Linked DNA regions of Homo sapiens: region 1 is linked to region 2. A link means that fine-mapping ties the variant in region 2 to the expression of a gene that starts in the linked region. Tissue or cell type: whole blood. Region 2 holds a variant in brackets; the other region holds the start of a gene. All regions are shown on one strand. Distances are between the middles of the regions.

Evidence for each region. PIP is the estimated chance that this variant, and not a neighbour inherited with it, causes the effect.
Region 1: RNF181 starts here. The variant in region 2 is fine-mapped to the expression of RNF181 in whole blood (TOPMed, PIP 0.96).

What each region holds. Positions count from the first base shown.
Region 1 is chr2:85,591,466-85,599,564 of GRCh38, reverse strand. It overlaps RNF181 (ring finger protein 181), which reads right to left and starts at 3,820. Exons shown (of 5, transcript NM_016494.4): 1 at 3,716-3,820; 2 at 2,916-3,046; 3 at 2,634-2,743; 4 at 2,387-2,461; 5 at 1,857-2,120. The coding sequence starts at 3,801. The coding sequence ends at 2,061. VAMP5 (vesicle associated membrane protein 5) reads right to left here. Exons shown (of 3, transcript NM_006634.3): 2 at 7,703-7,840; 3 at 6,159-6,617. The coding sequence ends at 6,408. It overlaps TMEM150A (transmembrane protein 150A), which reads left to right. Exons shown (of 8, transcript NM_001031738.3): 7 at 1-40; 8 at 248-1,018. The coding sequence ends at 489. RefSeq lists a silencer at 3,789-3,928 and enhancers at 5,872-6,371, 6,372-6,873.
Region 2 is chr2:85,507,236-85,515,336 of GRCh38, reverse strand. No RefSeq gene overlaps it. Among named protein-coding and RNA genes, the nearest start is that of PARTICL, 28 kb to the left of the region's middle. RefSeq lists a silencer at 1,810-1,989. The variant C/A (reference allele first, on the strand shown) is at 3,582.

The DNA of each region.
Region 1 (8,099 bases), 84 kb before region 2:
AGTGTGCTGGCTGTCATCGCCTTTATCACCCTGGTCCTCAGTATCCTTTCAGGACGGGGCAGCCAGGAACTCATCCTCTAGCTCAACCTTTCTCCCTCCCAAGAGGATGGGGGGTGGAGGCCTAACACTGCCATGTGGGGGAGAGGACTAACACCTCTCCCTTTGGAGAGGTGAGGCCTGAGACTGCAGAAGGGGTGTTGCCAGGTTTCCGTATGTCCTACTGAACATTTCCTTAGCCTCGTTTTAGGTGGAGTCTTCTTTGTCCATGAGAGTTCTCAGCTGCAACATGGGGCAGCCCTGTGTGAGTGGGTGTGTGTCATCGATATCCTCATTTTCTATGGCACCTTCAGCTACGAGTTTGGGGCAGTCTCCTCAGACACACTGGTGGCTGCACTGCAGCCTACCCCTGGCCGGGCCTGCAAGTCCTCCGGGAGCAGCAGCACCTCCACCCACCTCAACTGTGCCCCCGAGAGCATCGCTATGATCTAAGGTCTGGGGAGGGTGGCTGGCCCGGCCTCCACAGCACCCCACCCCATATCTTCTTTCCATTTATTTCGTACCAAAAACAATTTTGAGAAAGTATTCTGTTGGGATCTGGGCTTCCTCACTTCTGGAGAAGTGGCCATCCCATGCCCACCTGTGCCATGGAGGAGTGGGCCCTGCCAGCTGCCACAGCTGCATGACCTGCTTCCCCACCCCACGGTGTCGTTTTGTTTTTAAAGGTCACCTGTCCTCACTCACCCAGCCAGCCCTTCAGGTGCCTTCTACTCCCAGTGCCAAAGCCAGACCACTGGGGTTTCCTGCTGCAGGAATTGGGGGCTGGGAACAGCAGAGGGGATAGAAGTCTGGTGGAGGTGGAGTGGGCACGCCTTAGCCTACGGAAAGGCCCATTTCTGGGCCCACTGAGCTGCACTGGGATTCTTCACTCTGCCCCTCACTTCCTTTAGGGCAAATAACACAGCAGAACCACGTGGGTATTTTAGTACTTTTTTTTATATTAAAAGAATTCTAATTTGCATGTTTGTAGCCTGTTCTGGAGAGTTGGGGGGCCTGATCTGGGATGGCTTTCCATAAGCCAAGGATGGGAGGAAGCCCTTGCCCCCCAGGAGTGCTGAGTGCACTCTGTTGCCAGAAACAAAGGATGCCAGGTGCCACCCAAATACCCCTTCAAAGGGCTTGAAACCCTTCTGGGCCTCTAAGCAATCTAAAGAACTAACTTGGTCTGATAATCTCACCCATCCCCCACTCAGAGTCTGGTTTGAACTTTGATTCCTTAGGAGGCATGGGGGGAAGGTGGGGGTGGTACAGAGAGCAACTTTAAAATATTAAAAGTGGCTTTCTCAATGGAGCAAAAAGAAAACCTGTGGGATTACAAAGTTAACTAGACATTGCAGTGGGAGGAGGGTGCAGGCTAGTTTATCAGCTTTTTTTTTTTTTTTTTTTGAGACGGAGTTTTGCTCTTGTTGCCCAGGCTAGAGTGCAATGGCATGATCTCAGCTCACTGCAACTTCTGCCTCCCAGGTTCAAGCAATTCTCCTGCCTCAGCCTCCCAAGTAGCTGGGATTACAGGTGCGTGCCACCATGCCCAGCTAATGTTTGTATTTTTAGTAGAAACGGGGTTTCACCATGTTGGTCAGGAAGGTCTCGAACTCCTGACCTCGTGATCCACCTGTCTTGGCCTCCCAAACTGCTGGCATTACAGACATGAGCCACTGCACCCAGCCTAGTTTATCAGCTTTAAGTAATTAACTGGGTACCAGACCCTGACACATTTTGCCTTCCAACCATGAACACATAGGCCCAAGCCCTGGCTATTGCAGTAATCCAGTTCTTTACCACTGCCATGAGTCCAGATGGGCCAGCAGGGAGGAAAACCGCAGCCTGGTGCCTTCTGCGATTTAGGATCACCTTCCCCAACAGAAGTAGAGACCTGATGGAGGATGCAGAGCCCCTGGCCAGGTCTGTGATCAATACAGCCTCAGGGTGGGTAAAGAAACCTTTAATGAGGATTCAAGGTTAATAAGGAAGACGCAGAGGGCCAGCACTCAGCCCCAACCTCCTCACGTGTACATGGCTCCATGGAGGTTCTCCAGTCGGTGTTGCTGCTGCTGTTTTCGAGCCTGAAGGAAAGAAGGCATGCTGGGCAGGGGCCAAAACTGAAGGCCTATGGGTGAGGGGATGGGCAGCTATTATGGGGCTGGCTCTGTTTTCAGGCCTCTGGCGTCTGCATTGCTGAGGCTCTCACCACAAATCAAAGTCACTAAGAAGACAGCCAGAGCCAGGGATTCTGAGGCCTACCCAGTCCTGCTGAGGTGGGAAGTGATGGCAGCGGGGACAGGACTCAGGGAGCCCATTACGACCCCTCCACTTAAGCATCAGCCCCTACCTTATCTCGTCTGTGCTCCTCATAAGTGTCGTCATCAGTGGGCAGCTCATAGCGGCACAAGGGACAGGAATTTGTCTGAGAAAAGTAGAGTAGTGTTCTAGCCTTGGTCTGATCTTCATAAGCTGATAACCACCCTCCCCTGCTCCCAACTGCCACTCTTCTTCCATCCCCCAGCAGTCCATGAACAGAAAGAAGCTTGAGTACTGGGCCCAGGGCACGGTGAGAGCTAGAAGAAGAGAAGCAGTACCTTGCTTAGCCAGGGCAGAATGCAGCTGGAATGGAAAAGGTGATGGCAAGGCATCTCAATGGCAGTCTCCTCCTCCTCAAATTCCAAAAGACACACGGGGCACTTGAGCTCTTTAGGAAGGAGTGCTGATCAGGAGAGCTGCTACAGGCTCTGCCTCCCAAGCTCCCACTCCTGAAGGACACTTGCCCCCACCTGACCTGGAAAACTGAAGGACCAGACCACAGTCTGGCTTGGGGAAGGGGTGGGTCTGGCCCAAATAGCAGAAAGAATCAGTGTCCTCACCAGCCTGAGAGCCTCTGATGACTGTCCTGGGGAGGTTCTCAACCACAGTCTTGGCAGCTGGTGGAGGCAGGTGGTGGTCCCAATCTACTACCAACCCCAAGTCTTCAAAGTCCATCCTATTGAAAAGTGACCTGGGGAAGGGGATGTAAAGTCAGAACAAAGGAAAACTATGCTTTTTCTTTGTCCCCATAATCCACTGGACATTAATAAACACGCTGCCCAGCTAGTAGGAATAATAGCTACCCTTAGTAGTTAGTAGATGCTCACTAGATAAAAAGCACGATGGGAAATAGTTTACAACTGCTATCAGACCGCCCCAGCACGTAAAGTGTTTATTCCCATTTTACACATGAGGCAACAGATTCAGAGAAGTTACTCAGGCTACGCTGAATAACCTGGTAGAGCCCAGATTCCAAGACCAAGCCAGATTCCAGGTCCAGTAACAGCAGTGCCTGCTGTTACTGATGAATATACCCACTCACAGCACACGGCCCCAACCCCGCCCCCATGCCTCACCTTCTCTGAGACCTCCCAGAGCCTGCTGTCCTTCCGCCCCCACGCCCACCACTCTCCAGCTCCAATCTTTCCCGCAATCCCCTTGCCCCAGGCCGGCCCAACGGACGGCCCAAATTATCGAGATGCTCATCCCCACACCCCTCAGTCTCGCCGCCCGTACTAACACTCCAGATTACTCATCTGTCCTCCCCAGAATCCGCTGCCCCTGGTAATCCGCCTTCTCCAGCCAGCCCCAGCCCAGAAACCTGCTGGTTGGACCCTATCCCCAAGCCCCGCGCACCCACCTTGCGAGCTCCAGCAGCATGTTGGTTCGCGTCTCCTGCTCAGGGTCCGACGGCTCGCAGTCGTGTTCATCGAAATAGGACGCCATGGCTGCCCAGCCTTCTGACACAGCCCTCGGACCCTGCTCGATAGCGGCCTAGCGGCGCTGGCCAATAAACTGACGAGCTGAGAGAGGCTGGCCAATCAGAGTATCCGAGGGACGGGCATAGTGGCTCGTTAAACAGCACGGAAAGCGGAAGTACTAATTCGGCCCCCTCTCATTGGCTTGAACAAGTCAGGTGACCAGAGACTAACGCCAATGATGGAGATCTGGCTGGTGAGGAATCATTTGTTTTGGAGTCGGAGCCAAGACTGAATTCCCGGGGATTTCTGGCGCGATCGCGTCCAAGTGTCTGGTGTGTAAGGCTCTTCAGTCTGCCCTGAAGCTCAGAGGGCTTCGACAGTACAGATGCTAGAGGCCTCTGCGAGCAAAGGCGGCGCTGGCCCAGGGGTTCAGGTTCCTGCGAGCGTTGGCCCATGGCGCTTCCGGATGCGCTGTCCGGATCCCCGCCGGACACTTCTGCCCCCGCGGCCCTCTAGTTGGTTCACCAGTTTGCGTTTGATTCCTGCGCATTTCTTATGTGTTAGGCATAATAATAAAGGGTGGGGCAAGCCTCCCCAACTGAGAGAGATCTCTTTGCCGGAGAACCTGGGGCCTCAACCAGCTCATGGGACTGTTACCTTCAGCCCGTTGCTATCCCTAGCTTCTGTAAAACTGCTGGCTTGTACTAAGACCTTTTCATTCCTGGCTACACATGAATTCCCAGAGGAGAGAATGGGCGCGGAGGAGCTTTAGAAACACCCGTGTCTGATACCTTCGAAGATTCTGATTTAACTGATCTGTGGTGGGGCCTGGGCAATGGCACTTGTATAAATTATGCAGGTGAAGCAGGTTTAAGAACCACTGCACTCAATGATTTGGATGATAGGTACTATTTAGCATCTAGAACTGTTAGTCTGATGTATGTTTTACACGCTCGATCATCCCCTCAATAGACCCAGGAGCTAAGCGTCATTATGCCCTTTTTACCTCAGAAGTGGCTTGCCCAAATTTGCAGTCTGTAAGTGGTGTTGCAGACCAGCTGCAGGGCCAAGTGCTTTCCTCCATCTTTCCCAAGAGAGGAAGACGCTAATGCGCTCAGTAAAACTAACACGCTCTGTAAGGGGTGAAGCTCCACACAACTCAGGCTTATTCTGGTTTCTGTCAGTAGCGCTCACTTTACCCAGCAAGGAACTGCTTATTTTACACACTTGACCCTGAATTCCCCTTGCCACTCACACCTGAGTTTGAACTGCAGCTAAGTAGCCCAGGCAGAGGCTGCCCTGTTTCCACAGTCTTGGTGTGGCTTTATTTCCTTCTTCCATGCCTTTGCCCAATGATCTTTGCTATGGCCCTGAAGGCACTGCCTCCCTGGCCTATATGGCCCTGTAGCTTTGAAAAGCCTGAATTCAGGCTGGACATGGTGGCTCACGCCTGCAATCCCAGCACTAAAGGCAAGAGAATTGCTTGAGCCCAGGAGTTCGAGACCAGCCTCGGCAACATAGACCCCGTCGAAAGAGGGAGGGAGAGAAGACACAGGAGAGACCCCGTCGAAAAAGGAAGGAAGGGAGGGAGGGAGATGGGAATACCAAGGAGTGCTTTAAGGTCCCCATCTCTTGCTGTCACTTCCCCCATCTGCAGTCTGATGTAAAGCTTGAGGTAGATAGAATGTGGAAAGAGAAATTGAGGAGTGGGAAGTGTTCAGAGGGGAAACCATTTATCTGAAGGTGAGAGCCTTATGAAAAATTTTTTGGGCCAGGCGCGGTGGCTCATGCCTGCAATTCTAGCACTTCGGAAGGCCGAGGCAGGTGGATCACCTGAGGTGAAGAGTTCAAGACCAGCTTGGCCAACATGGTGAAACCTTGTCTCTACTAAAAATACAAAAATTAGCCAGGTGTGATGGTGGGCACCTGTAATCCCAGCTACTTGGGAGGCTGAGGCAGGAGAATTGCTTGAACCCAGGAGGTGGAGTTTGCAGTGAGCTGAGATAGTGCCATTGCACTCCAGCCTGAGCAACAGAGCAAAAACTCTGTCTCAAAAAAAAAAAAAAAAAATTGGTGAAGTGCTTTCTTCTTTGTCATCGCATCTACAGTCTCATTGGTCCTCTAAGCATCCCCAAGATGACAGAAAAATAATAGATTTCATTCTCAGAGAAACAGGCTCAGATGGGGAGGACTGGTTCAAGGGTCTGCTTTGGGGGCCATTGTGTTCTTGCATCCACACTCCCTGTCTGTGTCGGGCTGGATCAAGTAGGGAAGGGAGAGGAAGGAGCCATCTCCCAGGGGTGGAGTCCTTTGGGTGATGGGCTTTTTAAGCAGCCCTAGGGGTAGAGACAGATGGGATTAACCAACCTGGGGACCTTCACACACAGATACCAGCTTTTAATCAAACAGCAGTTTTTACTGAGCTCCAGGTGGGGCTGGCCCAGCATGGCCAGTACAGCAGGCTGCCCTCAAGGGCCAGTCTGTGGCATGACAGGAAATGCAGGGGTGCACATGTTGGGGCTGCCCTTTGGCACTCACTGGGGTGGGTCAAGGGAGAGCAAACACCAAGGTCCTCTGGAGACCAGAATCGGCCAGTGCAGCCATTTGGCTTCTCCTTCAGGACCAGCTGGGTCAGTTCCCAGGCCCTGAGGCAATGCCTGCATCCTGGGTCCGTGGGGCACTACTGCTGTCACTGCTCTGAGGGAGAAAGACGACCAGCAGCACAATCAGGATGATGAGCAGGACACCAACCACCACCAGCCCCACGCAGATCCGGTAACGGATGTTCTCCCAGCACTTCTTCTGGGCCAGGTTCTGTGTAGTCTTGTTGAAGGTTGAGCTCTGCGGATACCCCCAGACACAAAGTGGGAGTTAGCTGGCACCCTCTTGGCCTGGGAGCCAGCTCCTCCCAACCCCATCTCAGTAAGGCTTAGTCTCCTCCTGCATCCTCCCCATCTTGTCTACTTTCTTTCTTTTTTTTTTTTTTTTGAGAAGGAGTCTCTCCCTGTCACCCAGGCTGGAGTACAGTGGCACAATCTCAGCTCACTGCAACCTCTGCCTCCCGGGTTCAAGCAATTCTCCTGTCTCAGCCTCCCTAGTAGCTGGGACTACAGGTGCACACCACTGCGCCCGGCTAATTTTTGTATTTTTAGTTGAGATGGGGTTTCACCATACTGGCTAGGATAGTCTTGAACTCCTGACCTTGTGATCTGCCCACCTCGGCCTCCCAAAGTGTTGGGATTACAGGCGTGAGACACCGCGCCCGGCCTTGTCTGCTCTCTTTCTATACCACCTGCCGTGGAACCCTCCCAGCCTGACTCATCTCAAACACCGGTGTGGCCCTTGACTTTCAGCCCTAGTGTCTCACCCTCAGTTAACAATGCCAGTACTCAGGCTGGACACAGTGGCTCATGCCTGTAATCCCAGCACATTGGAAAGCCAAGGTGGGAGGATCTCTTGGATCCAGGAGTTCAAGACCAGCCTGGGCAACATGGTGAGACCTCATCTCTACAAAAAATCAAAAATTAGACAGGCATGGTGGTGCAGGCTTGTAGTCCTAGCTCTTCAGGAGGCTGAGGCAGGAGGATCACTTAAGCCTGGGAGGTAGAGGCTGCAGCAAATATGATTGTGCCACTGTACTAGCCTGGGCGACAGAGTGAGACTCTGTCTCAAAGTAAAAAAGAAACAAAAAACGATACCAGTTTTCTACCTTTAAGAAGGTCCACAGCTTCAAACCAAGGCCTTCTTATCTTGTGGGGTCTATCTGTTGCATGTCTAGGCTATGGGTGCCTGAGGAAACCCAGAGGCCCCACACTGGCCCTCAAGAAGGCCTCAACCCCACCAAGGAACTGGAGATCCTGAATACAGCCCAAGAGAGACTTTCCCAATCCTCTCCCCTCCCCTCCATGCTCCCCCAGGCCTCACACCATATCCAGGAGTTGGTCTGAACGCTGCTGCAGTTCGGCCAGCTTCACACCACGCTCCAGGACCTTGCCGAAGTTGTTACGCATAATTTCCGTCACCTCGTTCGCCTGCTGCTGGCACCGCTCCAACTCTATTCCTGCCTGGACACCAAGCCCGAGGTCAGGGCTGCATGAGGCCCCCACCTGGCCCTCATCTGCCCCTGAGATCTAGAAGCCTCCTTCTCCCCCTGTAGGTGGGTACAGCATGAGAGTAACAGCATCCTTCGTGTAAGGGTATGATGTGTGCGGAGTGAAGGTCTGGCCTTCGGGGTGAGTGCGGCACACCTTAAGTCTCACAGGCTCCTCCCCTTGCACGTCAAGGCAGGGCCTAGGACCTAGGTAAGTCCCGGCTTCCAGCACC
Region 2 (8,101 bases):
GCACACCAGTAGTCTCAGCTACTCAGGAGGATGAGGCAGGAGAATCGCTTGAACCCAAGAGGCGGAGGTTGCAGTGAGCGAAGATCTCGCCACTGCACTCCAGTCTAGATGACAGAGTGAGACTCGGTTCTTAAAAAAAAAAAAATTGCTAGGTCAATTCAATTGGGACTTCTGGCCCTCTGCCTGGTCCCCTCACTGTCTTCCTCAAAGACTTAGGGCCATTCCCCTGTGAATCTCAAATCAGGGCAGCCCTCAGTGCCTCCTCTCCATATCTTAATCAGATACGAATAATCAGAGATGACAGTATTTAAAGAAGCCTTGGGGGATCAATTACAAATAGCCCAATTTCAGTTACAAAGGACTTTCACTTTGATCTAATATTTAAGTGAGAGACTCTCACCTGAATACAGACCTGATAAAAAACATTAGAAGGATTAAATGCTTTGCTTAAGGTCACACAGAATGCATCAAAACTTGCACTTAAAGTGGGGACCTATCTTTTAAATCTAGCAATATATTTTTTCCAGCACCATATCTTGGTAGCCAATGGTGATAACAAAGCTGTTTTTGTTTTTCTAAAATGAAAAATATACTAATGTCTTTATTTAGAGTTTTTCTAATAAAATACAAATCATTACTACCCTGTTGGGTACAACATATTAAAAATGTTTTTATCTTAGCTGTCTTATCTGCCTGGGTTTGGGATAGATTTTAGGATTTAATATTATTGGGTCACGTAATATCATTATGTTTATCAGAGTGAAATCTAGTTTAGCCTTTTGCGTACTCAATAAAAACCATCGTGAATTTTAGAAAAACTGCTCAGAGTTCATATTTGAGCAGTTGCGTATTGGCAGCAGCATCTTGATATAAAAGACAACTTGTTATTTTTACGCATTCTGGAATTGTGAAACTTAGAAAGCACATTATGTTTTTTTTTTTAAAGATTATGTTTGTTTAGTGCTTTATATCTATTATAATCCTTATGAAAGCCCCGTGAAGCAAGTGTGTAAGAACTGGCATTTTAGGCTGGGCACGGTGGCTCATGCCTGTAATCCCAGCACTTTGGGAGGCCAAGGTGGGCAGATCACTTGAGGTCAGGAGTTCAAGAGCAGCCTGGCCTACATGGTGAAACCCCGTCTCTACTAAAAATACAAAAATTAGCCGGGCATGGTGGCAGGTGCCTGTAATCCCAGCTACTGGGGAGGCTGAGGCCAGAGAATCACTTGAACCTGGAGGGTGGAGGTTGCAGTGAGCCGAGATCTTGCCACTGCACTCCAGCCTGGGTCACAGAGCGAGACTCCATCTCAAAAAAACCCAAAAATAATAAAAATAAAAATAAAATTTTAAAAAATAAAAAAATTAAAAATAAATAAAGATGAAGAAACCAAAGCCACGGGGCCTAAGTGGTGTGACCAGGGTCACTGGACTCATTGGTGGCTGCATTGGTCAGGGTCTTGGCAAGAAACAGAGGGCACACTCCAGTTGGGTAATTTCAGCAGAACCTAATAAAGGAACTCTTTACAAAAATAGGGGCAGGGTGCAGGGAAGCCACAGGGACAGTGTGTTGTTGTGGGGAGCTACATAGGCTTGCCATGGAGGGAGGAAGGAGGGCCAGGTCACCAGAACTGGAGAGGCCTGCAGTGTCAGTGCACAGAGACCTCCTAGGTCTAAGAACTCAGGATAATTAACACCCAACCCCTCTGTCCTCCCTCCTTCTGATCCCCTAAAGGAGACCCTCGTTGGCCTTATTGGAAGCCAGAGGGCAAGGGAGCCTGCTGAGGTTTCTACACAGGTCAGTCTCCTGGGCACTGAAGAGAGAGAGTAGGGAGTGGCTCCCGGATGGAGTAGGCAACAGAAGATATCCAGCACAGAGGTGAATCCATGAGTAAACCTCAGACTTCCTTTAAAAAAATAATAGTAGGGCCGGGCGTGGTGGCTCATGCCTGTAATCCCAGCACTTTGGGAGGCCGAGGCAGGTGGATCACCTGAGGTCAGGAGTTCGAGGCCAGCCTGGCCAACGTATAGTGAAACCCCGTCTCTACTAAAAAATACAAAAATTAGCTGGGCATGGTGGTGCACGCCTGTAGTCCCAGCTACTTGGGAAACCAAGGCTGGAGAATCACTTGAACCCGGGAGGCAGAGGTTACAGTGAGCTGAGATCATACCACTTTACCCCATCCTGGGCGACAGAGTGAGACTCTAACAAAGCAAAACAAAACAAAATAAAAAATAATAGGTCAGGCATGGTGGCTCATGCCTGTAATCTCAACAATTTGAAAGGCCGAGGCAGGCGGATCACTTGAGGCCAGGTGTTCGAGACCAGCCTAGGCAACATAGCGAAAGCTCGACTCTACTAAAAATACAAAAATTAGCCAGGCATGGTGGCACATGCATGTCATCCTAGCTACTTGGGAGGCTGAGGCACAAGAATCACTTGAACCCGGGGATAGAGGCTGCAGTGAGCCAAGATCATGCTACTGCACTCCAGCATGGGTGACAGAGGAAGACTCGGTCTCAAAATAATAATAATAATATGATAATAATGAATAGATAATTATGTGAGGTGATGAATATGTTAATGGTCTTGATTGTGATTGTTTCATAATGTATACCTATATCAAAACATTAAGTTGGACCAGCATGATGGTTGATGCCTGCAATCCCAGCACTTTTCAAGGCTGAGGTGGGAGGATCACTTGAGCCTAGGATTTCGAGACCAGCCTGGGCAACATAGTAAGACCTCATCTCTACAAAAAATCAAAAAATAGCCAGGTGTGGGGCATGCACCTATAGTCCCAGCTACTTGGGAGGCTGAGGCAGGAGGATCACTTGAGCCTGGGAGGTGGAGTTTGCAGTGTAACCGAGATTGTGCCACTGCAGTCAGCCTGGGCAGCAGAGAGAGGCCCTGTCTCTAAAAAAATGAAAAACAGGGGCTGGGCACAGTGGCTTATGCCTGTAATCCCAGCACTTTGGGAGGCAGAGGTGGGTGGATCACCTGAGGTCAGGAGTTTGAGACCAACCTGGCCAATGTGGTGAAACCCCATCTCTACTAAAAATACAAAAATTAGCCGGGTGTGGTGGCAGGCGCCTGTAATCCCAGCTATTCGGGAGGCTGAGGCACAAGAATTGGTGGAATCCGGGAGGCAGACGTTGCAGTGAGCCAAGATCGCGCCATTGCACTCCAGCCTGGGCAACAAGAGCAAAACTCTGTCTCAAAACAAAATAAAAGAAAAAAAAAAAAAACAACCCCACCCCCTCCAAAAAAAAAAAACCGTTAAGTTGTACACCTTAAATATGTACAGTTGTTATTTGCCAGTTATACTGAAATAAAGCTGAAAAAAAAAACTGATCTCGGACTTCTTGTCCCTTGATCCTATGCTCTTTCCATAACACTGTGCCTGAGACACATAACACTGTGCCTGAGTCCTAGCTCCTAGCACAGAATTTCAGAGAAGTTCCCTTCAGGACCACCCTTTGGCCCACAACATCCCTCAACATTAAACTTTAAGCTCGTTTTCTAAAGCGTTCTGTGAATATTAGCCTCTATGGAAGGATCCCATAGGATCCTTTTTTGACAG[C/A]GATCCCATGGGAGCTATAAATCAGACTGGGTCAGGCAGTGGCCTGTGGGCTAGGCCAAGATGGCAGGGCTGGCAGGTTGAGAAAGGTCCCCTGAAGTCATCACTGGTTCTTGGCCATCATCACATCTTGGCAGAGATCCTCAGAGCCTTTAATGCAGCTGTAGTGGGCATTAGCCACGAGGCTGGCAAAGTTTCAAGAATAAAAGAATCCATTTTACTATCTTTTGCATCTGGCAATTAAAGGACCTTGAACAAAAGACTTCATCTCACAGCACTGTTGATAACTCTACGGTTTGCACTTGGCTACCCTGGCTTTATTTTTATATAATCCCTCTGGCATGAGACTCCAGGTTTTATAGAAAGTAAACATCTCGGGGGTGTTGGAGCTTTCTACCTTGGATGCGTTCTTTATTCACCTTTATCCTTGGTTCTCTGAGGGCTAAAGTCATAAAAAGTTTGATGACAGTGACCTCTTCCAAACCCAAGAGCTATGAGAGCAGTGTACTGAGAAATGCAAAGCCCAATGTTCTCATGGAACACAAACTCACCCAGAGGTCACAGAGAAAAAATTCTCAGTTCCTGTTCTGGCAGAATCATTTCCAAAGAAATGAAACCATGGTCACATCCAGCTTTTATGGTCTGAGTGGTCATATTCCTGAAAGAAGCATAACTACTAGAATCTAAGGTGACTTCACTACAAGGTTAATACATTCACTCCCCCAACTCCTCACCCAAATAAGGCCTTATGCACTGTGCATTTTCCCCCACTGCTGGGGGAGGTTTTTCTAAATTTCACTCATAAGCAGTTTACCTGGTACCACTGGAATTGATCAAAGAGGCACAGAGTTGGCCGGGCGTGGTGGCTCACGCCTGTAATCCCAGCACTTTGGGAGGCCGAGGTGGGCGGATCACGAGGTCGAGAGATCGAGACCATCCTGGCCAACATGGTGAAGTGCTGTAATCCCAGCACTTTGGGAGGCCGAGGTGGGTGGATCACCTGAGGTCAGGAGTTTGAGACAAGACCAACCTAGAGAAACCCTGTCTCTACTAAAAATACAAAATTAGCCATGCATGGTGACACATGCTTGTAATCCCAGCTACTCGGGAGGCTGAGGCAGGAGAATCGCTTGAACCCGGGAGGCGGAGGTTGCAGTGAGCCGAGATCACACCACTGCACTCTAGCCTGGCGATAGAGCAAGACTTCATCTAAAAAATAAAATAAAATAAAATAAAATAAAATAAAATAAAATAAAATAAAATAAAATAAAATGGCCTGGCGCGGTGGCTCACGCCTGTAATCCCAGCACCCTGGGAAGCCGAGGTGGGCGGATCACAAGGTCAGGAGATCGAGACCATCCTGGTAACATGGGGAAACCCTGTCTCTACTAAAAATACAAAAAAGTTAGCCGAGCGTGGCGGCGGGCGCCTGTAGTCCCAGCTGCTTCGGAGGCTGAGGCAGGAGAATGGGGTGAACCCGGGAGGCGGAGCTTGCAGTGAGCCGAGATCCTGCTACTGCCCTCCAGCCTGGGCTACAGTGCGAGACTCCGTCTCAAAAATAAATAAATAAATAAATAAATAAATAAATAAATAAATAAATAAAATAAAATAAAGAAAATGGCTCTAGCACAGTGGCCCTATTGCCATTCCTGCCTCAGGAATTTTGCACTTGCTGATTCCTCTGTTTGGACCACTCTTCCCCCAGATTGCCGTATATGGCTCACTCCCTCACCTCCTTCAGATCTTTATTCATATGCTGCTTTCTCAGTGAGACTTTCCCTGGCCACCCTGGATGCCCTGTTTAACATTGATGCTTCACTCCGGTACCCCATCCCTCTTCCCTGATTTATTCATTTTTTTCCTGTAACACTTAAACCATCTAACCTACTCCCTTCCCTATTATTTTATTTACTTATTTCACTGTGGTAAAATATACACCACACAAAAATTACCATTTTAATAGTTTGTAAGTTTTCAGTTCGGTGGCATTAATTACATTCACATTGTTGTGCAACCATCACCACTATCCATCTCCAGACCTTTTGCATCTTCCTCAACTGTTGAAGCTCTATACTCTTTGAACGCTACCTCCCCATTCCCCACTCCCCCCAGCCCTTGGTAACCACCATTCTACTTTCTGTCTCTATGAATTTGACTACACTAGGTGCCTCATGTAACTGTAACACTAGGATCTTTCTCTCTCTCTCTTTTTTTTTTTTTTTTTTTGAGATGGATTCTTGCTCTGTCGCCCAGGTTGGAGTGCAGTGGTGCGATCTTGGGTCACTGCAACCTCCGCCTCTTGGGTTCAAGCGATTCTCCTGCCTCAGCCTCCCAAGTAGCTGGTATCACAGGCACCTGCCACCACACCTTGCTAATTTTTGTAGAGACGAGGTTTCACCATGTTAGCCAGGCTGGTCTCGAACTCCTGACCTCAGGCGATCTGCCCGCCTCAGCCTCCCAAAGTGCTGGGATTACAGGCATGAGCCACTGCGCCCGGCCAGCCACCAAGCCTGGCCAATCTTTGTCCTTTTATGTCTGGTTTATTTCACTTAGCACAGTGTCTTTGAGGGTTTATCCATGTGGTAGCTTGTGTCAGAATTTCATTCCTTTTTTTTTTTTTTTTTTTAAGGTGGAGTCTCACTCTGTCACCCATTCTGGAATGCAGTAGCGCAATCTCTCGGCTCACTGCAACCTCCGCCTCCCAGGTTCAAGCAATTGTCCTTTCTCAGCCTCCTGAGTAGCTGGGACTACAGGTGCATGCTACCACACGTGGCTAATTTTTGTATTTTTAGTACAGACAGGGTTTCACTATGTTGACCAGGCTGGTCTTGAACTCCTGACCTCAGGTGATCCACCCGCCTCAGCCTCCCAAAGTGCTGGGATTACAGGCATGAGTCACCATGTCCAGCCAGAATTCTGTTCCTTTTTTAAGATTGACTAGCCAGGCGTGGTGGCTCACGCCTGTAATCTCAGCACTTTGGGAGGCCCAGGCGGGTGGATCACCTGAGGTCAGGAGTTTGAACCACCCTGACTAACATGGTGAAACCCCACCTCTACTAAAAATACAAAATTAGCTGGGCGTGGTGGTGCACGCCTGTAATCCCAGCTACTCTGGAGGCTAAGACAGGAGAATTGCTTGAACCTGGGAGCCGGAGGTTGCAGTGAGCCGAGATTGCGCCATTGCACTCCAGCCTGGGCAACAAGAGCAAAACCCCATCTCAAAAAAAAAAAAAAAAAAAAAAAGACTGAATAATATTGCATGGTCTGTATATGCCATAGTTTGTTTATCCATTCATCTGTCAAAGGACATTTGAGTTGCTTCCACTTTTTGGCTATTGTGAATAATACTGCTATGAACATGAGTATACAAATATCTCTTTGAGTCCCTGCTTTCAATTCTTTTTTTTTTGAGATGGAATCTCGCTCTGTTGTCCAGGCTGGAGTGCCGGGGTAAGATCTCAGCTCACTGCAACCTCCGCCTCCCAGGTTCAAGCGATTCTCCTGCCTCAGCCTCCCAAGTAGCTGGGACTACAGGCGTGCGCCACCACGCTCAGCTAATTTTTGTATTTTTAGTAGAGATGGGGTTTCACCATGTTGGTCAGGCTGGTCTTGAACTCCGGACCTCCTGATCCGCCCGCCGCGGACTCCCAAAGTGCTGGGATTACAAGTATGAGCCACTGCACCCGGCCAATTCTTTTGTGTATATACCCAGAAGTGGAATTGGTGGATCAAGTGGTAATTTTATGTTTAATTTTTTGAGGAACCACCATACTGCTTTCCATAATGGCTGCATCATTTTACATTCCCACCAGCCTATCTAACCTACTTTTACTTATATATTTTGTTTAGTGCCTGTCCCCTACCCTTCTTTGAATGTAAGCTCCATGAGGCTAGTAGAGATGTGTTTCCTGAGTATCTAGATCCTTGTTTGGCACATGGTAGTCAGTGTTTGTTAAATAAATGAACTGATTCAGTGCCTCTGACTTCATTTGCATTATTTTGATCCCCATTCAAGGGCTGGCTTAATCCCAGTGGAGCCCTTTTTGGTCCATCTCCCCAGCAGGCTCTTTCCCAACTAGGTGTATGCCTCTTGCAACTCATCCTCACTTTCTGCTTGTATTCTAGTTGTCTGTGAGAGTGCCCTATCTTTCCCTCTGAATTATAATATCCTTAATGTTAGGGAGCTTGGTTTTTTGGCCTTTTCTTATCTTTGTTTTGCCATCTTTCTAGCTCAGGGGCAGAGACTCAATACATTTGTATCAGAAGGACACTCTAAATGTCCAGGCTGAGCAGTGCCACTGTCAAGGATAGGCTTGAGCAGTCCAGAGCTGAGACCAGGCCTCCAAAGAAACTGGCTGTGTCGCTATGGCACGTGCCTCTCTCTCTGAGTCTGGTCCTCTTTTGTCTGATGAGGGGATTAGACCAGTGACCTCTCAGGTTCCTCTTAGATATTACATGTGCTGTGGGACCGAGTGTTTTGCAGGAAGAGTATGGTCTTCATCTGTGAGAGCCCATAGTCTGAT